Homo sapiens: one gene and its partners. The protein of the gene in region 2 interacts with the protein of the main gene of each other region in a pairwise test. Each region holds a gene or a part of one and is shown on either strand. Other genes may lie near its edges.

Evidence for each region. Proteins that work in one complex are often made in the same cells at the same time.
Region 1: the proteins of ELAVL4 (region 2) and NSMCE2 interact in binary tests that used the Homo sapiens proteins (3 or more experiments, as listed by UniProt).
Region 3: the proteins of ELAVL4 (region 2) and TMT1A interact in binary tests that used the Homo sapiens proteins (3 or more experiments, as listed by UniProt).

What each region holds. Positions count from the first base shown.
Region 1 is NC_000008.11:125,101,835-125,108,860, reverse strand, and holds part of NSMCE2 (E3 SUMO-protein ligase NSE2), read right to left. Parts: intron 6,848-7,026; exon of another isoform or gene 6,811-6,847; 5' UTR 6,715-6,810; intron 6,545-6,714; 5' UTR 6,531-6,544; coding exon 6,374-6,530; intron 1-6,373. UniProt on the Homo sapiens protein: E3 SUMO-protein ligase component of the SMC5-SMC6 complex, a complex involved in DNA double-strand break repair by homologous recombination. Is not be required for the stability of the complex.
Region 2 is NC_000001.11:50,188,910-50,195,935, reverse strand, and holds part of ELAVL4 (ELAV-like protein 4), read right to left. Parts: intron 2,172-7,026; coding exon 2,018-2,171; intron 376-2,017; coding exon 150-375; intron 1-149. UniProt on the Homo sapiens protein: RNA-binding protein that is involved in the post-transcriptional regulation of mRNAs. Plays a role in the regulation of mRNA stability, alternative splicing and translation.
Region 3 is NC_000012.12:50,920,722-50,928,015, forward strand, and holds the start of TMT1A (thiol S-methyltransferase TMT1A precursor), read left to right. Parts: upstream 1-4,293; 5' UTR 4,294-4,317; coding exon 4,318-4,815; intron 4,816-7,294. UniProt on the Homo sapiens protein: Thiol S-methyltransferase that catalyzes the transfer of a methyl group from S-adenosyl-L-methionine to alkyl and phenolic thiol-containing acceptor substrates.

The sequences.
Region 1 (7,026 bases), on a different chromosome or scaffold from region 2:
CAAGTATATGTCTTATTTCCTACCTAGACTGTAAACAACTCAAAGGAAGAAACCTTTATTTATCTTTGTAGTTTTGGCAACATATCTGATGAATTAGTGACTTAGCTGGACTCAGTCTTACACAGACTTCCAAACTCATCCATCTTTCTTACCCTCTTCACATCACAGGCCCTTCTTCTAAGTTCTGACCCTCAAATTTTACTAATTGCTGGTTGTCATATATGATAGCTATTGAATTAACATTGTGGCTGAGAGCACTTAGCATATATTATCTCATTAGTCCCAACAATCTTATGAAGCAGGCATTTTAATCCTATTTCACAGATAAGAAATTAGAAGCTGAAAGAAGTTAGGTACCTTACTCAAAGTTACAGAACTTATGACAGAGTTAGGACTGGACCCAATAGCAAGCGTGCACTTAAGTGCTGATACTGGCTGCCTTAGTATCAGCCTTCTACAAGTCTTTCATCTACTGTTACAGGCTGATCTACCCTCCAATTTCCTTAAACAACCGGTGTTTTCCTACTCTCTGGGTCCTTGGACAGCACCTCAGTCTGGTATCACATTAACACTGCTCCCCTAACAAGTTCTTGCTGAATTACCCCAGTGGGAGTGATTGCCCTTGGCTTTCTCTCTGCAGAGGACTTCTCATGTCATCTACCTCCTATTCATAAGCAATCAAACTCAGTTTGTTCTCAGTGTGGTCTTCTGAGCCATTTCAGGGGGTCCGTGGGTCAAAACTATTTTCATCGTAATTTCTTCTGGGCCCTTTCAGGGGATCCATGGGTCGAAACTATTTTCATCATAATTTTTTTTATTTTTTTTTTGAGACAGGCTCTGGCCCTGTTGCCCAGGCTGGAGTACAGTCGTGTGATCTCAGCTCATTGCAACCTCTGCCACCTGAGCTTAAGCTGTCCTCCCATCTCAGCCTTCTGAGTAGCTGGGACTACAGGTGTGCACCACCATGCCTGGCTAATTTTTGTATGTTTTGTAGAGACAGGGTTTGCCATGTTGCTGCAGGCTAGTATCAAACTCCTGAGCTCAAGCAATCTGCCCAGGTTGGCCTCCCAAAGTGCTGGGATTATGGGTGTCAGCCACCAGGCCTAGCTTATTTACATCATAATTTTAAGATGCTATTTGTCTGGGTTTGTTTGTTTTTCTTTTTCTTTTTTAACATTTGCACCATTAGTACAAATGTTGAATGTTTGTACTAATGGTGCAAAAGCAATTGTGGAAAAAACTGCTGGTGCCTTAGCAAAAATCAGAGCAGTGGCACCAAACTGTTGCACTCTAATAGATCATTGTATTCCTCTCTACCAAGCACTCATAGTAAAACAAATGCTAGTTTCATTTAAGAATGTCCTTGATAGGCCAGGCCTGGTGGCTCATGCCTGTAATCCCAGCACTTTGGGAGGTCGAGGAGGGTGGATCACGAGGTCAGGAGTTCAAGACCACCCTGGACAACATGGTGAAACCCCGTCTCCACTAAAGATACAAAAATTAGCCGGGCATGGTGGTGTGCACCTGTAATCCGAGCTACTCAGGACTCAGGAGGCTGAGGCAGGAGAATAGCTTGAACCCAAGAGGCGGAGGTTGCAGTGAGCCAAGATCGTGCCACTGCACTATAGCCTGGGACAGAGCAAGACTCCATCTCAAAAAAAAAAAAAAAAAAGAATGTCCTTGATAAAACAGTACAATATAGAACAATTCACAGACAAACTATGGTTATTCAGGTTTGGGTATCTGAAAGACATTTTCTCAAAAATGAAGAAAGTGAGCCTGTGCAACTGTAATTTCAAAGACAACAACTAACAGCATTTGTTGCTAATGGTAAAATGAAAGTTTTTTTTTGTTGTTTTTTTTTTGAGACAGAATTTTGCCCTTTCACTTAGGCTGGAGTGCAGTGGCGTGATCTCGGCTCACTGCAACCTCCGCCCCCAGGGTTCAAGCGATTCTCCTGCCTCAGCCTCCCGAGTAGCCGGGATTATAGGCGCCCACCACCACGCTCAGGTAATTTTTGTATTTTTAGTAGAGACAGGTTTTCGTCATGTTAGCCAGGCTGGTCTCCAACTCCTGAACTCAGGTGATCCTCCAGCCTCGGCTTCCTAAAGTGCTAGGATTACAAGTGTGAGCCACAGCACCCGGCCAAAATGAAAGTTGTTTGTTTTTTTTTTTTGAGATGGAGTCTTGCTCTGTCGCCCAGGCTGGAGTGCAGTGGCCTGATCTCTGCTCACTGCAACCTCCGCCTCCCAGGTTCAAGCTATTCTCCTGCCTCAGCCTCCTGAGTCCTGAGTAGCTCGGATTACAGGTGCGCACCACCACGCCCGGCTAATTTTTGTATTTTTAGTAGAGATGGGGTTTCACCAAGTTGGTCAGGCTGGTCTCAAACTCCTGACCTCGTGATCCACCTGCCTCAGCCTCCCAAAGTGCTGGGATTACAGACATGAGCCACCACACTCAGCCCAAAGTGAAAGTTTTAAAGAAAAAATTAGAACTTTGAAAAATTTGTGTTCACCATTATAAATTTGAGAGCGTATGACTTTTCTGATAAGATCAGTGGTGATATTAGTTATTTGCAGCTTTATAACATCTTTTCTGTTTTCTCATTGTTTTAGTATTTTAATATGTGTTTGTCTTCCCACTAAGATGGTAAACTCTATGAAGGGAAGAACTACTTAATACTTGTTTATGTCCTCTTTAAAACCTAGAGCTGAATTATATGCAGAATAGTCACTTGGTTAGTTTATGTTGACTACTTTGTTATTTTGACTCCTGGTATTAGTTAAAATGTGTGTGTGTGTGTGTGTGTGTGTATGCACACACACACGCATGTATTCATATACATATTGAGTTCATAAGAAGTCCAGGCTCCTGGTGACTCTGTGTCTGTCTAAGTTGTTTAGTTCACTTTTTTTCCCATATAACTTGCTCAAAATTTTTCTTAAATTAACTTTTTTGGTAAATGCAAAATCAAGTATTTGCTGTAAAATTAATCCAAATATTAAAAAATAAATACATCTTTCTTTTAAAAATTACTTAATGACAATCTGCGGCACTAAAGCAGGGGTTGACAAACTAAGACCTGTGAGCCAAATCCGGCCCACTGCCCATTTTTGTAAATAAAGTTTTATAAGACCACAGCCATGCCCATTCATTTACGTACCATCTATGGTGGGTTTTGCACTACAACAGCGGGTTGTGACAGAAACCACATGGCCTACAGAGTTGAAAATATTTGTTATCTGGCCCTTTATAGAAAAACTTTGCCAACTTTGGCTTTAGAGCATGAACCTTTCAAAAAATGATGTTTATAATTCTTCTTAAATTGCACATGTTGTATTTTACAACAAAATATACCTCTTATTTAAAACAAAACAAAACCAAGAGAAAAAAAAAACTCTGTAGCTAAAACTCCCAGGAATCTTCAAAAAGAATCCTGAAAAAAACTGATACAATCTCCCAAGGGGTTATGTTCCAGTCTTCTCTCTTATGGTTTAAGATTTTATTATGACTTTTATCCAGGCCTATCTATCAAAGCTAAATTATGATCACCAAAAACATAATCAAAAACAGACTGGGTAGGGTTAAAACATTTGGAGGCCACCCACTAAAAAGATTATGAGTGACACCTGCTGTTAGCCGTAAATGAATAACTGTATGGAGCTGGTCCACCTGCCATGAATGACTGAAAAACTAAACAAAATATATGAAACAATAGCTGTGGGACAGTAGGACAAAGGCGGGACAGGACTGTAATTACTGCAATAAGGGAAAACTGGGAAAAGTCTTGCAATGGCCTCCTCCCTGCGCAAGGGAGGAGGAATCCAAGGGAGTTTTTGAGACAGAGTCTCACTCTCTTCCCCAGGCTGGAGTACAGTGGCACAATCTCGGCTCACTGCAACCCCCTTCTCCCATGTTCAGGCAATTCTCCTGCCTCAGCCTCCCCAGTAGCTGGGACTACTGGCATCCTCCACCATGCCTAATTTTTGTTTTTTAGTAGAGACAGGGTTTCGTCAGGTTGGCCTGGAACTCCTGACCTCAGGAGATCCTCCTGCTTCGGCCTCCCAAAGTGTTGGGATTACAGGTAGGAGCCACCATGCTCGGCCTAGCACAGCAGTCTTGAAGGATTGAGGAGACAGAGACTTCAGTTCAGGGAGGCTGAGGCAGCCAGCAGGGTTTGCAAGAGAGTGAGGGAGCTATGCAGATAAAGAGCTCTAGGAATCTGCACTGGGGTCCCCTTGAGTCTGATGCTGAGTCCTAAGATGCTGAGCAACAAATACTGACAGCTATAAAGTGAACAACTCCCAGGTTCAGTCACGTAGGACCTAGGACCGGGAGACACTCAAATTCCATCCAGCCAGAGTAGAGCTATCGCACTGAACCCTCGGGGCAATCAAGAGAGACTCCAGAAGGGCCATGCTTTGTAACAAGGCTAAATTAGCCCTAACATAAAGGCTATATTAGACTTGACCTAACAAAGCTTAACGATAAGCCTAGAAAGGATCAGCCTAATCCACAATCACTTAGCTGCACACCAAACAAACTCCAACACTATTTAAAAGAGGACAACAAGCTGGGCATGGAGGCTCATGCCTGTAATTCCAAGATTTTGGAAGGCCAAGGCAGGCGGATTACCTGAGGTTGGGAGTTTGAGACCAGCCTGACCAACATGAAGAAACTCCGTCTCTACTAAAATTACAAAATTAGCTGGGCGTGGTGGCGCATGCCTGTAACCCCAGCTACTCCGAAGGCTGAGGCAGGAGAATCGCTTGAACCCGGGAGGCGGAGGTTGCAGTGAGCCGAGATCGCACCATTGCACTCCAGCCTGGGCAACAAGAGCAAAATTCCGGCTGAAAAAAAAAAAAAAAAGACAACAAAATCCAAACACTCAACAACATAATACACATAGAGATGACAGAATTAACATACAAGGATATTAAAATAGCTATTATAAACATGCTCCATATACTCAAGAATGTAGAGGAAAATATGGACACAATGAAGAAAGAAATGGAAGACTAAAAAAAAAGATTCTACTTAATTCTTTGTTATGTCTTCAACAATTAAAAATACAGTAACTGAAATTTTTAAATTCACTAAATGGAATTATCAGATTAGACACTGCAGTAGACAAGATGAATGAACTTAGCAATAGAAATTATTCAAATTGAAGCTAAAGAGTAAAAAGACTGGAAAAAATCTATCAAGTTCCACTGATTTATGGGACAATATCAACCCATCTAACATACATGAAATGTGAGTCACACAGAAGGAGAGGAGAGCAGAGGAATTAAAAAAATATATTTGAAGAAATAGTAGCAGAAATTTTTCCAAATTTGATTCAAAAAACTATAAGCTGACAGATCCATAAATCTCAAACAATATCAGTCAGGACAAAAAAAATCACACCACGGCACATCACAAATTGCTCAAAACCTATGCCAATAAAAACAAAACAAAAGGATCATGCTGCTCCTCTGGCTCCATGTGTAAAATAAAATAAAAACGATTCTACTCCAAAGAAAGCAAATAACATCTTTTTTCTTTTTTTTTTTGAGACAGAGTCTTGCTCTGTTGTCCAGACTGGAGTGCAGTGGCTCGGTCTCGACTCACTGCAACCTCCACCTCCCGGGTTCAAGTGATTCTCCTGTCTCAGCCTCCCGAGTAGCTGGAATTACAGGCACCTGCCACCACACCCAGCTAATTTTTTGTATTTTTAGTAGAGACGGGGTTTCACCATGTTGGTTTTGTATTTTTAGTAGAGACGGGGTTTCACCATATTGGCCAGGCTGGTCTCAAACTCCTGACCTCGTGATCTGCCGGCCTCGGCCTCCCAAAGTGCTAGGATTACAGGGGTGAGCCACTGCACCCGGCCTGCAAATCACATCTTTCTAGATCTTCTTGATTGAACAAATGTAGGTAAAATTCATTAAAGTTGAACTTTTCTCATTTTTGTTGAGGCCTTCCTTTGCTGGTATCCCTAGCATAAGCTTAGTCTATCTACTGGTTAATCAAGTATGACCAAAGTATAAACTACTGAAAAATAACAATATCATAATAAATTTATATACCTTACAGTTCACAAATGTCAAATACTTTAGATTGTATGCTCCTTGGGGTCAGGATCTTCAAATCTTTGCCCATACATTTCTAGCGCAGTTTCTCATGGAACTTAACTGTCTGAACACACATGAATGAGTCAATCTTATTTCACCCTCAGTACCCTGCTGCGGTGTGTAGAATAAAATGAGACAACAGATGCCTAGAGGGGTTAAATCATTCCCCCAAGGATACTCAAAAGGCACCCCCAGATAAATACCACCACACAGTGTTACCTCAAAGTAGACACAAAAGAGGTTTTAATTTTACTTACTCTGACTTTCCACAAGATCCAAAGCAACACTAGAAGCTGTGTCCATACCAGAGTTGATACAGGCTTGGAAGTTTTTCAAGGAGGAGAGAGCAGACTCTACACCACTGAAGGAGATGAAACCAGTTGAACCTGAATTTGAACTGGAACGTCCTGGCATCTTGAAATTAGTACCTAAGTTTTCAAACACAATGAAACAAGATTCGTAAGTCAGAATAATAACTGCACAGGAAAATATTAATAAAACTGCTGTAAACATTCATACAAATGTATCCAATATCTCATAAATGCCACACTATTCTGTATATCCTATAGAGAAGACACCAAATCACTGTGCCACTCACCTGGGCCACCAAACACAGCTGGACTCAATATATGGGGAAGGTAAGTGTCCTCAGTTTTTGGAGAGAGATTACCCTCTTCCAAAAGAGTGCTTGATTCTGTGAAGAAGTCAACAATAGCACAGTTCTTAAAAGCCTACAAGATAAATGGGTTAGAAAAAGTAGACCACTCATATGATGCAATTTTCCAAAGAGAAAAAAATACTAATAAAATAGTTTATTAGTAAACTATTTTGAAAACCTGTAATCGTTAAACTATCCAACATATATGCATACTGAATTCTGGAAACTGTAAAAAAAAGAGAAAATCTATAT
Region 2 (7,026 bases):
AAACTGAGGCTCGGGGGGAGTTTTGCACAGTGATTCCTGGGGGTGGAAGCTTTTACCCTTGCCCCATTTGTCAGGACCATGGGCTTCCCTGGCTCTTGCCCAGCTATGAACCCCTGTAGCAGGGCTTCTTCCTCTTTGGGCATGCCTACCTGAACCTCTGAGCCTGGTGGTGAAGTGGACCTGGGTAGCGCCGGTTGGGGGACTGGTAGAGCTGGGAGAGCAGGGCCTGGCTGGACTTCTGGCTGGGGTTGTTGGCAAACTTCACAGTAATCGGTTCCGTAGCACCGCTGGGCTTCTGGCCATTCAGCCCTTTGATGGCTTCTTCTGCCTCAATCCTCTTATCAAAGCGGATGAATCCCACCCCTCTGGACACTCCTGGGGAAAGAGAAAGAGCCTTTGTAAAGAGTGAACACACCAAACTGGTAAACATCTTTGGGAAGAGATGGGTCCTGTGGATATTGTGTGAGGAGTAAGCCCACCTGTGGTGCCAGGGCTGAGCCCAGCTCCCTGATCTCTCTCACCAATCAAAACACGTTTACCTGCATTCCTGCTATCATGGCTCTGGACTGATGCCTCCCAGCCACAGAACACAGGGCTCTCTTGCATCTGGCCCCTCTAGTCCTCTATCACTGCTCTGCCCCATCATCACCTCCCAAAAGTTACTATAACTGATCACTCACTGTCCAGTTTCTAGTCTTCTCATGTGTCCTCCACATGTAGCTAGTGTGCAATCTATTTGAAAAGTGAACTCTGACCACATGATATGCTTTAAAAACATCTTCTGTATCTCTTTTGTACTTTTTGAATTTTGTACCTTGTGCATAGTACCTATTCTTCACTGACTCCCATTCTAAAATGAATAACAAACAAACAAAACCTACAAAATACCCTTCCATGGCTCCATTCTGCACCCAGATAAAGTCCAGACTTCTTGGCACAGCATTCAATGCCTCTGGCAATCTGGCCCCAAATTCCCTATTGAGGCTCACACCAGCCACCCTGAACTGCCTGATCCTCCTCGAATAGACTGTTCTTCCTCGATTCCATGCCTTGGGATATGCTCTCCTCTCCACTTACACTGCTCTGTCCCTCCTTTTTGCTGGATACCTCTGAAACATCCTCCAAACTCCTATTCAAACATTGCCTCCTCAATGGGGCCCTCCTAGCAATTCCCACCAGGCATGGCACACCTTCTCCTGAGCTCTCAGGGGCACTTGACAGCTTCTAGCAAGTATTTGGACTCCACACTGGAGTCCTGTAAGGGTGGGGCAGTGCCTGCTTCTTTCTTGGTCTCCAGGGTCCCTCTGCACAATGTCTAGGGCAGAGCAGACTTCTGTGAAGGTTTGTCTCATGAATCACATGATAAACGTGCTAAACTATTCTCAGGGGGTGAGTTCTAAATTGGAATCAAATTGGAGGTAGGCGAAAACACCTTGTCATTAAAAGTGCAACCCAGAGTACCTGACATTTCTTACTGAGAGGTGGTGGCTGCCTTTCTTTATTATGGACAAAGAACACCAGTACCAGATCCTCGGTTCAGATCCTTGTACTGCTACTAACTAGCTTTGGGGAGTCAGATCCCCCACTTTCAACCTGTTTCCTCAAGTGTGAAATGGGACAATTCCTTCTAACTCTATAATGCTATGAATTGGAGTTACAGCTATGCATACAGGTTCTTTTCACATACAAAAGTAATGTTATTTGGTTGAGGGCTGAATCAGACTTTGAAGGTCATACAGTTCCACTCTCAGCCTGATGCCTGAATCCTTTTTACAACCCTGGCAAGTAGTTTAGCTGCTGCTAAAACAAGTCCCATGATGGAGAACTCCTACCTCCCAAGATGGCCCATTTTAAATTTGGGCAGTTGACCGATAAGAAGTCTTTCTTCCAAGTCAAAAATCTGTCTATTCATGATCCATATCATCTGCTTTAAGCAGCCATCAGCCTTCTGCTCTTATGAGTAACAGGGCTGATGACATTGATATACAAGGAAAGAAATTACAAAGAAACACTTAACCTGTGACTTGATCAACCAGGATTCGTGAGGTGATGATACGGCCGTATTGCGAGAAAAGTTGCTCCAGTTCCTTCTGGGTCATGGTTTTGGGAAGGCCGCTAACATAGAGGTTAGCATCCCTGATTGAGGCAGAGCTCGGACGGGCATATGAGACCTAGGAAAAGGCAAGAGGAGCTAATTCCATTATAGGCAATCACCCTCAGAGTAGATGCTGAGTCCACAACCAAGATGACAGCCCCTCATCTACCGTTACAACTCATGGTGTCAGTTTAAATCACTCAGTAGTTCAGATTTTTAGCTACCCTTGTAATAGTAATGAGAACCAGGAGAACAACAATAGAGGAACAACAGGAGAGTTGACAATAACTTAAAACAAATGCACAGATAAGGGTCTCTAAGTGCAGAACAAAATAGCTACTGTATGGCAGCTGTTAAATGCAGAGCTACCCACACATGGAGTTCTGAAGATTTACCTCCTGGAAGTGGGTGTATAGATGATTTACTGTATCCAACACATAATAATCTTTGAATAAACCAGAAAAAAAAAAAAAACCTCATGAAATTCTGCTCTGCACATTTCTCTCCTTGCCACCCTCCCTACCCCCATCCCCTTCTTCCTGAATACATAAAAGCAATCAGGTTCTCTGCAAGATTTTTTTATGTTCCATCCTTTGTGTTGCTCCAGTCTGTTCCCATGAGGTCTGCTCTCACCAAATGACAAAGTGCTGGTGAAATAGGGCTGAATGAACATCTGCTTGCGAAACTGGATATGTGACCTTGTCGTCACATCTGCAAGGACCAGTCGCCTCTAACTTTGAAGCAGGGCAGATAAAAACCACAACAAATAAAATGGGGGCAAGATGGAAAGGAGGGAGGGAAAGGGCAGTAGAGAGAGAGAAGAGAGCCTCACCAATGGTTATAATAAGTTCGACTTTGTAAATTTGTCCTCCCAGATCTCTCAACTGCTTTTCTTCCCCCCAAAAGCTAACACAGAAGTGTAAACAGATCTGAAATTCCATCTGCAAGAAGCCAAATCTGTAGCAGTACACATAAGCAAAGCAAACCCCAGCAGTCATTAATTTTAGACTTTCATTTACTTATTTATTTATTTTTTAAGAAAACAACATCAGACATTTGAAATATAATTTACAGCTAGTCTAACAAAAGCACTTTCCTGCTAAAGCTATTTCTGGGGTGGTTATGGCTCAGAATAGATGATGAAAACAGTCATTTCAGAGCACATCTGACAACGTTGGACAGGAAGAGACCTATATGCCTTAGCGTTTTTCAGTTGGAAGTTCTATTTAATCCATACAACTGATTCATAAGACCTATTAAGACTGTAGGGGTGAGAGTGTGTGTGTGTGTGTGTGTGTGTGTGTGTGTGTGTGTGTGTGTGCGTGCACACAAAAGCATGTGTGCAAAAGGAATTGAACACATTAAACCAGACCTTTGACATTAAGACCTAAACCTCCAGCAGTAATGTGGACCCTGCTTCTGTGACCTTCAGGGGAGAGAATGGGTCTAGCAAAGAAGATGAAGGATGAGCAGAACCCTCATCCATGGCACTCTCCCCCTTTCCATGACAGACATGCCAGGTCCCTTTATGGGTTCCATGCCTAAAAATAGATGTTGACTCAACAGATAAAATGATGTGAGTGACTAATCTGCCTCCCTGGCCTCCTCCTGCTGATGGAGTGAGGCAGCTGCCTTCAGTATCTCCATCTTCTAGAAACTCACGGGTGGGCTGGGAGGCCTCTGTGGGCTCCTTCTCAGCACATGGCTGAGATGTAGAGGGGCCTTTATATAGGGGGTCCCAGTGTGTGCATTTGCAGTGTGGGCTGAAGGACTAAGAACCCCATGTGACTGTCTGGACAGGGCTTCACTCCACAGAAGGTTCTCCCACCCCTGTTCTTTAAGGGACAAAGTGTGTCAATAGCAGAACTATTTTTTGAGTAAGAGGAAGAAGTGGAAGAAGGAAATAAAAACATCATAGTGATATGCCCATGGCAATGAGGGTCACCCTTGTTTCACCTTGCCAATTACTGACAAATTAATTATCCGAATGACATTTGTGCTCCCTCAAAACACAACCTACCACCTTTATACCTTTGCTCATACAGACATTTTTTTTATACCTACTTCCTCAAGTCCAAATCCTACTCCTCTTCAGGGCTCAGATCAAATGACATCTTCTCTAGGCAGCTTTCTCTAATCTCACCTTCTCCTAAAAATCTCCCCAGCAGTGTTCTCAATGAACCATGGTACTTAACCCGTTTCAACCTTAACTGACCACCTCTCCATCTAGGCTGATGATCTCTTTAGGTTGTAGGTCTTGTGTGTGTGTGTGTCCTATTCAACTCTGTGACTCTAGCTCCCAGCACATAGCCTGATACCTATAAAGTGTTCAACACCTACTGAAAAAATGAATAAACACCCACAGCTCATGAGAAATGATGTTGATATTATTGGCTCTTTGGAGTTAACTGTAACTCCAGTAAGGTGGACCACTGAGAGTCAGGCACCCAGAATCCCAGCTGTGTTTCTCCACCAAGCTAAGAGCTAAGGGACATATTTCCCATTTTCCAATGCCTGGGGCTGGAAGGACTGAAAGAAGATTGTTCTAGGACTAGACCTCACATAGAGGCCTTCTCTTAGCAAATATTTCCTGAGGATCTACTATGAGCCAGGTACAGTGGTATGTGTTGGCAACACAGCAAGAACAAGGCATAGTCTCTTGCTGTAAAGGAACTCCAAGTCCAAAGAGGGCAACAGACAACACATAAGAGGCACTCAATAAAATGTGTTGAACAAAAGAATGGATGAGTAAACATACAGACCAATTATCACAGTGCCACAAGATGTGTGTGTTATGCCAGGGATACATATGAGTGTGACTAAAACACAGAGGAGGGAGAGATTAATCAAAGGTTAAAAGGGCCGGGAAGGAGACACAGCTGAGCTGAGACTGGTGGTGAGAAAGGTGGTGGTGGAGTCAGGTAATGGTGGCCTGATAATAGCCTTCCTCTGTCACGAGGACAAATGAGGTGATGAAGATCAAGGGCTTAGCACAGTACCTGGCACCCAATAAATGCATAATGGATAGTCATGACCTTAACTCCCATTAGTTCTGCACAGCCAGAGCTAGGGTACAGAGGGAACAGGGTGAACCCTGCCAGGGAAGAGGAGCTGGCACTTGAAAGTTGGTGACACAACAAAAACCATTTCCCCAAAAGTTGATTCCAACATAGGTAGAATCTCAGCTAGGGAGAATTACTGCAACACATCTCCAGAGACAGACCCTAAATCCCCAAAGGCAGCAACAAATCCCAAAGGTGAACAGCACATCAATCATTCTCTACCAAGTCTAATTCCTGTTTAGTATTTCTCACCTATATGGAACCTTAAGTCTATTGTTCTCTCAGTTTCCTGTCCATGAAACCTGTGGCGTATGGATAAACAAAAATGACAGAAAAAAGATCTTCCTGCATTGAATATCCAAATGTTCATCCTAGTACCTAAAATTTTCAACTTTCCATATACATGTATTAAATTCTAACTGAATGACTACAGTGGTCAGGCCCTTGGTTAGGCTGAAAGATTTCCAAAAAATTGCCAATTTTCAGGGTCAGCATTGATGGCATATTAATGCCCCTGGGCCAGTGGCCTGGAGTCACAGGGCTTCCAACACTGGAGCCAGCGCCCTGGAGAACCCCCCTTGCCTCAGTCAGGATCCTGTTTGCTTCATTCATCCAGAATCTCTGAAGACAAGACTGGCATCTCTAGGCCAGCACTGACCTCCTTCTGGAACTCAGAAAGGGCTGGGAGTGAAGAAGCCACTCCTCTCTCTGGGTAGGGGTGGCTCAAAGCCAGGTGACTGTAAGCAGCTGACTTTACAGATGATCTCTATGGAAGATCTGAAGTCCCTCCAAGCTCCTCAGCTCTCCCCATCCCTGGTGCTCACAGTCTTCCCATCCTCCACCAGAAGGATGCTATAGCATCATGCTTATGATCCCTGACTGTGGGTCAGCTCCAGTACTCACTAGCTGCATGACCTTAGGCAAGTAATTTGATCTTGATAAGTCTCAACATCTTTGCTCGTAAAAAGGGGGTCAATTATCCTTTGATGGGTTATTGTAAGAACTGAGTTGATATATTTGTCTAGCACATACCTAGAACTTAGTAGATACTTACACATATTATTATGTGATGAGTCATACAGGCTTTTGTGGGCCAGCCTGGGAATCTAGCTCCCATTGGGACATACCCTCCAATTTCACCGGAAAAAAACCCCCAAAAAACAAACAAAAAAAACATGTGGAACACTACCAGGGAATGCCTGTAGAGGCACTGCCCTCCTCTGCCACCCTGGTGGGGTCTGGACCATCTTTTACCACTTTACTGACATGAATGTCCTCTAACACATTTCCACAGATCCCACTGCTTTATGCCGACAAAGTACTTTCCACTTTCCAAAGTGACTTCCCAATTCTGCTCTCAGCAAGTCTCACCAAGGTGGGTAAAGCAGGCGTTGTCATTCATCACAGATGGGGCATCAGGACGAGGGCTGAGGGCTGCCTCTTCCCATGCAGCACCCACAACTCCCTTTACCTGTTCATACACAGGGCTTGGCCTGGGCAGGGTGGGAAGAACAGCATGACCTGAGGAAGAATGTTCCCTGAATCATCCAGCAATACCTCACTCCTTGTCTGTCCTCCATAATACAGAAAAGGGAGAGGACATGGAAAACACGATAAAGGCATGTTGGGTGCAATGAGGAGGATAAAATGAGAGGGAAAAGGCATCCTTTTTAGCCCCAGAAAATTGCTCCTTTAGAAAAACACTGGCATTAGAAGATGGGAGTTCATTCATTCCTCCCCTTCCTAAACATCTACTATGTGCCAGGCCCTGGGATGGGTGTTGGGAATGTCTCTGCTTCACGAATCCCAGTCTGGAAAGGAAAGTAAACAAATGAAGCATGCAATACAGAGGGCTGCTTCCAACAGGGA
Region 3 (7,294 bases), on a different chromosome or scaffold from region 2:
AATTTTAAAGTTAAAAATTGCTAAGAGTTACCATTATAACATGTAAATGAGACTACTGAAAATAGATTTACATACAAGGTGTGTAAGAACAGTAAAATGTTTTGTGGTAAAATATTATAAAAAGGCATGGAAATGTAAATATTGCCTAAGGATAAAGGATTGTTTTGAAACCAACTTAAGGGTAAAATCTTGCTTTCTCTCCCTTGTATACGATTGTCATGTAATAGTGAAGAATAATGAAAGATTTTCATTTGCATGGTGGATAGACTGCCAAGAAGAGGAAAGAAGACAGGAGACAAACTTTGGAAAGCTAAGTCTTCCCTCTTAATGAGTAAAGATTTTTGCCTTGTTTTAAAATTTTTGAGTCATCATTTAGGCAAAGTAAATAACTTATGGTAACCTGGAACTGTATTTCATAATATCAAGTGTTTTAAACCTCTAACATTTAACAGGCTTTTCAAAATCAAACTTCAGTTTCAAAATTGTCTTTCCTGACCCTCTAGCTTTTCAATGCTACAGAGGGCCCTGAAGCATCCAGAAGAGAGGTAAACAGGATTATTTAACATATTTAGGCACGTGGAATTGCCAAAATGATGTTTAATGTTCTTCAGGTTATATTTTAGTGAATAATACTGATATGTGTTCCAAAATTGTATGGGATGTCTAAAATTCCAATGTCTGAGTACATGTTATCAATCAAAATTAAGGTTATGTTAAACCATTGTCAACCACAGAAATAACCAGATTTGTCAATCGTGTTTTTAACTGTAACTACCCTAGAAATTTTGTCATTCACAGACAATTGTCGTCTTGTTTTAAGCTTTTTCAAGAGACAGCTTATAATCAGCTATAAGACTTTAACAGGTGCTTTCACATGCAGGTTTCTGATAACTTTGGAAATCGTGACATGGGAGTAAAGACATACATACTACCAGTTTAGATTCTTTAATGGTTAGTAGTTTAATCAGATATTCTATGTCTTCTTGAATCAATTATGGTATTTTCAATTTTGCAGAAAATTAATTTATCCAACTCTTCAAACATATTAGCATAAAGTTGTGCCTAGTATTCTCATATAAATTTTTCTATATTATCTGTACATGTGCCCTTTTATTCCTATTATGTCTTTTCTTGAAGTCTTATTACTTTTCATTGAGATAAATTTACATATAATTAAAGTGCAAAAACTTTAAGTGTACAGCTTGATAAATTTTTACATATATATGTGTGTATATATATATCTGTTTAACTTCCAACAAAATCAAAATATAGAACATTTCCAATATCCCTAGAAGGCACCTTTGTGGCCTCTAAGTCAATAACCCCAAAATGTCTATGTAAGTAAGTCTGCTTGAATTTCATGTAAATAAAATGCTACAGTATGTACTCTCTTCCTTTAATCTGTAAGATTAATTTTTGTTGTTGTATGTATCAGTAGTACATTTGTTTTGTAGGGCTTTTTGAAAATTAAGTATTCCATTATTTGAGTTGACCATTCAATTTCATTTTTATTTTTTATTTTTATTTTTTTGAGACAGTCTCATCTCACTCTGTCGCCCAGACTGGAGTGCACTGGCACAATCTCAGCTCACTGCAACCTCTACCTCCCAGCTTCAAGCAATTCTCATGCCTCAGCCAGGCTGGTCTCAAACTCCTGGCCTCAAGTGATCCGCCTGCTTGGCCTCCCAAAGTGCTGGGATTACAGGTGTGAGCCACGGCACCCAGCCTGATAATTCAATTTCATCTGTCTCAACTGGGCTTTGTGACCCAGGTATTGTCCTTTGCTAAGAGCCTCAGAATGCTGTTTTGTTTTCACAATTCTGAAAAACAGTTTCAGGAACAACATTCAGGCTATTTCCCTAAACAAAAACAAAAGATAAGTGCAAAAGAAAAAAAGAAAAGAGTGTGTCACCAGAAGGATAATGAGGTTGTCTGATTTGTAAAAGGAAATATCTATAGCTGGAGATAAATGGCAAAGTTGTCCAGCCAGGTAGGTTCCCAAAAGTATTTTAATTTTCTTAATGATTATGTCTGGGGTTACTTTGGTACTTTTCTTACAAGCAAACTTTGTGGCCATAGGCCTCTCCATTTTAAAAAGAATAATTAAATTCTCTACAAAATTACTTTCATTCTCCTTTGCTGAGGGCTTTAGAATCTTCCAGTCCTGTGGAGTTGCTCAGTTTCTTCCCTGGATCCTGTTTTCAAAAACAGACAGAAGGGCAACCCGCTCGGGTCCCCTTCCACACTGTGGAAGCTTTGTTCTTTCGCTCTTCACAATAAATCTTGCTGCTGCTCATTTAAAAAAAAAAAAAAGGAAAGGAAACAGGCCACAGACAGAAAACAGGCCACTGATTGCCTCAGGATTAGGAATGCAGAAGGGAGGATCACAATGGAGCAAGAGTAATCTTTTAGGGGTGATGGATATGTTCATTTATCTTGGCTGAAGTGATGGGTTCACAGGTATATAGATATGTCAAAACTTATCAAACTGTACACATTAAATATGTAAAGTTTATTATATGTCAATTCCACCTAAAAAAATCTGTTAAAAATGGAATAGATACAATATTTATAAAATACATGCAGGTTATAACAAATCATGAAACAACAGAACACTCCCTGTATCCATCACCCAGTTTTTTAAAGTAAATGTTTACTATTTTTAAAAAATTATTTTTTTCTGTGTTCCCTAGCCACCCTAAAGCTCAGGCCTTTTTCTTTTTCTTCTTTCTTTTTTTTTTTTTTTTTTTTAAAGAGATAGAGTCTCACTATGTTGCCCAGACAGGATTTGAATTCCTGGGCTCAAGGTATGCTTCTGTCTTAGCTCCTCAGTAGCTGAGACCATGGGCACCCACCACTGTGCCCAGATTCGGGCTTTCTTGTAAAAAGCGGATGGATGCTTGAAACTATTTTCTGAATCCCTTTGGCTCCCAAATGTGAATATTCTGGGAAATATTTTTATCCAAATTAGCTGAGTAATCGAGTAGTTAGGCACATTTTGAAGACTGAGGCTTGTCCTTTAAAAGAAGGGCAGCCCACAAACTGACTTCCTTGAGCCAAAAATTGTTTTAAAAGGGGAAGTACAGCCCAAAACAGTGATTTTAAAATATCAACAAAAAGAGTCAAATTCTGTAAAATATTTAAAGAGATTTATTCTGAGCCAAATATGAGTGACCATGTCCTGTGACACAGCCCTCGGGAAATCCTGAGAACATGTGCCCAAGGTGGTCAGGGTACAGCTTGGTTTTCTACATTTTAGGGAGACATGAGGCTTCAATCAAATACATTTAAGAAATACATTGGTTCAGTCCAGAAAGGCAGGACAACCCGACGCGAGGCAGGGAGCTTCCAGGTTATAGGTACGTTTTAAATTTTTCTGGTTGACAATTGGTTGAGTTTATCTAAAGACCTGGGATCAATAGAAAGGAAATGTCTGGGTTGCAATAAGAGTTGTGGAGACTGAAGTTTTATTATGCAGATGAAGCCTCCAAGTAGCAGGCTTCAGAGAGAATAGATTGTAAATGTACTTAAGGTCTGCGTTGATGTGAATGCCGGCTTGAGGTATAATGAGGCATATCTGACCCCCACTTCCCCTCATGGCCTGAAACAATCTCTCAAGTTAAATTTTAAAAGCGCCCTGGCCAAGGAGAAAGTCCATTCAGATGGTTAGAGGCCTTAGAACATTATTTTTGGTTTACAAAAACGTTGAGTTGTGAACACTGAGAGCCTCTGCCCAGAATGTAAAAGAGAGAATTCTTGCTGACTGTGGCCGGGCATGCATGTCCTTTCACTTCCTTTTTTTTTTTTTAAAAAAAAAAAAAAAAAAAAAAAAAACAGGGTTTGGGCGGGGGAAGTAAGGGGGATGTGTTATGATAAAGGGGCCTTGGCAGCACTCTTCTGGTGTGGTTTGACCAGGCTCCACCCACGAATTCTGTTTTCTTTTAGAGGTCACTGGAGAGCCCGGTGGGGTGTAAGTACACTGCGCTTATAAAACTCTAGCAGGAAGCTAGCAGCTGTCTCCAAACCCAGAGAAGGGGAAACAGGAATCGATTAGGAATAAAGGATTATAATCCACTTTCCTTCTGAGGAAAAGCTGGGAACCTTCTCATTTTGCCTTATGAAAACTAAGCTGAATCGACTGCTGCCAAACATCTATTAGGCAAAATTGGCCTCTTGCCCATGATTTGACTTTCCAGCACAGCCAGTTCTTTTTCTCCTCTGCAGCTGATTGGCTCTGGAGTGTGGCCAGAAGCCTCTCTCCTGCAATTAAAGGAGTCGGGTCTCTAACTGTTGATCTGTTTTTTTCCCTTCTGAGCAATGGAGCTTACCATCTTTATCCTGAGACTGGCCATTTACATCCTGACATTTCCCTTGTACCTGCTGAACTTTCTGGGCTTGTGGAGCTGGATATGCAAAAAATGGTTCCCCTACTTCTTGGTGAGGTTCACTGTGATATACAACGAACAGATGGCAAGCAAGAAGCGGGAGCTCTTCAGTAACCTGCAGGAGTTTGCGGGCCCCTCCGGGAAACTCTCCCTGCTGGAAGTGGGCTGTGGCACGGGGGCCAACTTCAAGTTCTACCCACCTGGGTGCAGGGTGACCTGTATTGACCCCAACCCCAACTTTGAGAAGTTTTTGATCAAGAGCATTGCAGAGAACCGACACCTGCAGTTTGAGCGCTTTGTGGTAGCTGCCGGGGAGAACATGCACCAGGTGGCTGATGGCTCTGTGGATGTGGTGGTCTGCACCCTGGTGCTGTGCTCTGTGAAGAACCAGGAGCGGATTCTCCGCGAGGTGTGCAGAGTGCTGAGACCGGTGAGTGAAAGGGTGTGAGGAGGACTAGTTAGTAGCAGCTATTATCATAGAGGGCAGGCCTGTCAATTTCAGGTGGCTGAAACATTTTAACATAAAAAGTAAACTACTAGAAAATACTGTAGAATTTTTTAAAATTTTAGCGTGGGAGAGAAGCTATAAAGAGAAAGATTGATAAATCTGAATATAAAAACTTAAAACTGCTATAAAGAAAAAACCTCCTGGCCGGGCACAGTGGTTCACGTCTGTAATCCCAGCATTTTGGGAGGCCAAGGCAGGCAGATCGCTTGAGGTCAGGAGTTCGAGACCAGACTGACCAATATGGTGAAACCCCATCTCTATTAAAAATACAAAAATTAGCCAGGCATGGTGGCAGGTGCCTGTAGGCAGGAGAATCGCTTGAACCTGGTGGGGCAGAGGTTAAAGTGAGCCAAGATTGCACCACAGCACTCCAGCCTAGGCAACAGAGTGAAACTCCATCTCAAAAAAAAAAAAAAAAAAAAAAAGAAAGAAAGAAAAAAAAGAATAAGAAAAAAAAACTCCCCAAAACAAAGTTAAACTACAAAACAAGCTTGGAAAAAATATTTGCCAGGGATGATAGACAAAGGGTTAACTTCCCTCATGTTAAAAGACATTACATGTCAATAAGATCAATATTTTTCAATAAGAAAAACAAAAGGGAAAATGGGCAAATAACAGGAACAGAAATGTAAACCAATTATAGGACAAAAGTGCTCAAACTTAAAGAGTTAATTAAAGGAGATACTAATTTTACCTATTATACTGTTAGGGACTTCTTTTAAGGTCAGTATAGGGTTGGGGTGGGTTTAGGGGACTGGACACCACCATACACATTAGAAGAGGTACCCTCTTTGGGTGGTATCTGATAATATCAAAATTTAAACCACACATACTCTTTTATCCACATGCAAAAACTTGTCCATACACAAGAATATTAAGTAGAATTTGTAATTGCACAAACTGGAAATAACTGAAATGTCTATCAATAGGATGCTATGTAAGTGAGTTGTCATATTGTATAAAGGAACACTGTGCAGCTGTCAGAAAGAACAAGAAGAGTTATCTGTGCTGATACTTAAAAATCCCCAAGGGATAATGTTTAATGAAAACAAAAAGCAATCAAGCCACAGAATGTTAGGTAGAGCGTAGGCCCACCACATGCCCATTGTGTGAGGCAGGGAGAGGAGATACATATATGTGTATAAGTTAATGGGAATGACAGACAAGTAACTATTAACAGTGGTTGCCTTTGGGGAATGGGATTGGATTCAGGGAAAGAATTACTTTTCATTTTAAACCTTTCCGTAAAGTCTGTAATTCTTTATACCTGTATGTAGTTTTCACATATTACCCTTATTATTTTTAGCTAGTTTAAAATCGTTTTATATTCTGAACAAAGTTGAAGATATGGATATCTTAACATTTGAATTTACTCTTCTGGGGGAAAGGCATGTTTTGTAATCCCCAGTTTTCATTTTTTGTTGAGACAGGGTTTCCCTCTGTCACCCAGGCTGGAGTGCAGTGGCATGATCACAGCTCACTGCAGCCTTGACCTGCTGGACTCAAGCAATCTTTCCGTCTCAGCCTCCCCACCCTCCCAGCAGCTGGGACTACAGGCATGCACCACCACACCCAGCTAGTTTTTGTATTTTTGTAGAGATGAGGTTTCGCCATGTTGCCCAGGCTGGTCTCAAACTCCTGGGCTCAAGTGGTCTGCCCACTTTGGCCTCTCAAAGTGTTGGGATTACAGGTGTGAGCCACCATGCCCAACCATCAGTTTTATTTTCTAATAGAGGAAGTTCCTCAGGAAGAAAAGAACTTGGAGATAGGGTTTAGGGAAAATCATACAATCCTGTCTTGGCTCAATATCAGAGTAGTAAATAAAAAAGGACTGATTCTTATACCCAAATGCTGGGTTCTTATATGCTAAGACTGGGCACCAACTGGCACATTAGTAGATGTTTTGCTTACAGTGTTACTAATCTCCCAACACCGCTGCAAGGCAGGTAATTATTATCTCAGTTTTCCAGTGCCAAAAATCAATTGAACTCTTAAAGTTATCACATTCGTGATAGTCTTCCTTAGCTCCTGCCAAGCACCCACTCTCTGCTGGATATAACAAGGGAACTTTATTACATTTTCATTTAACCCTGTCAACAGTCCTCTAAAGTACATATCTTCATGTTAGGACAAAGAAACAGACTCAGAGAGATTAAGGAATTTGCCCAAAGTTACACAGCTAGTAGACATGGCTCTCTTTAATGCAAATGCAAATATTCCTTTTTTTTGAAACAGAGTCTTGCTCTGTCGCCCAGGCTGGTGTACAGTGGCATGATCTTGGCTAACTGCAGCCTCCACCTCCCAGGTTCAGTGACTCTCCTTGCCTCAGCCTCCCGAGTAGCTGGGTTTACAGGCACATGCTACCACGCCTGGCTAACTTTTATATTTTTAGTAGGGATGG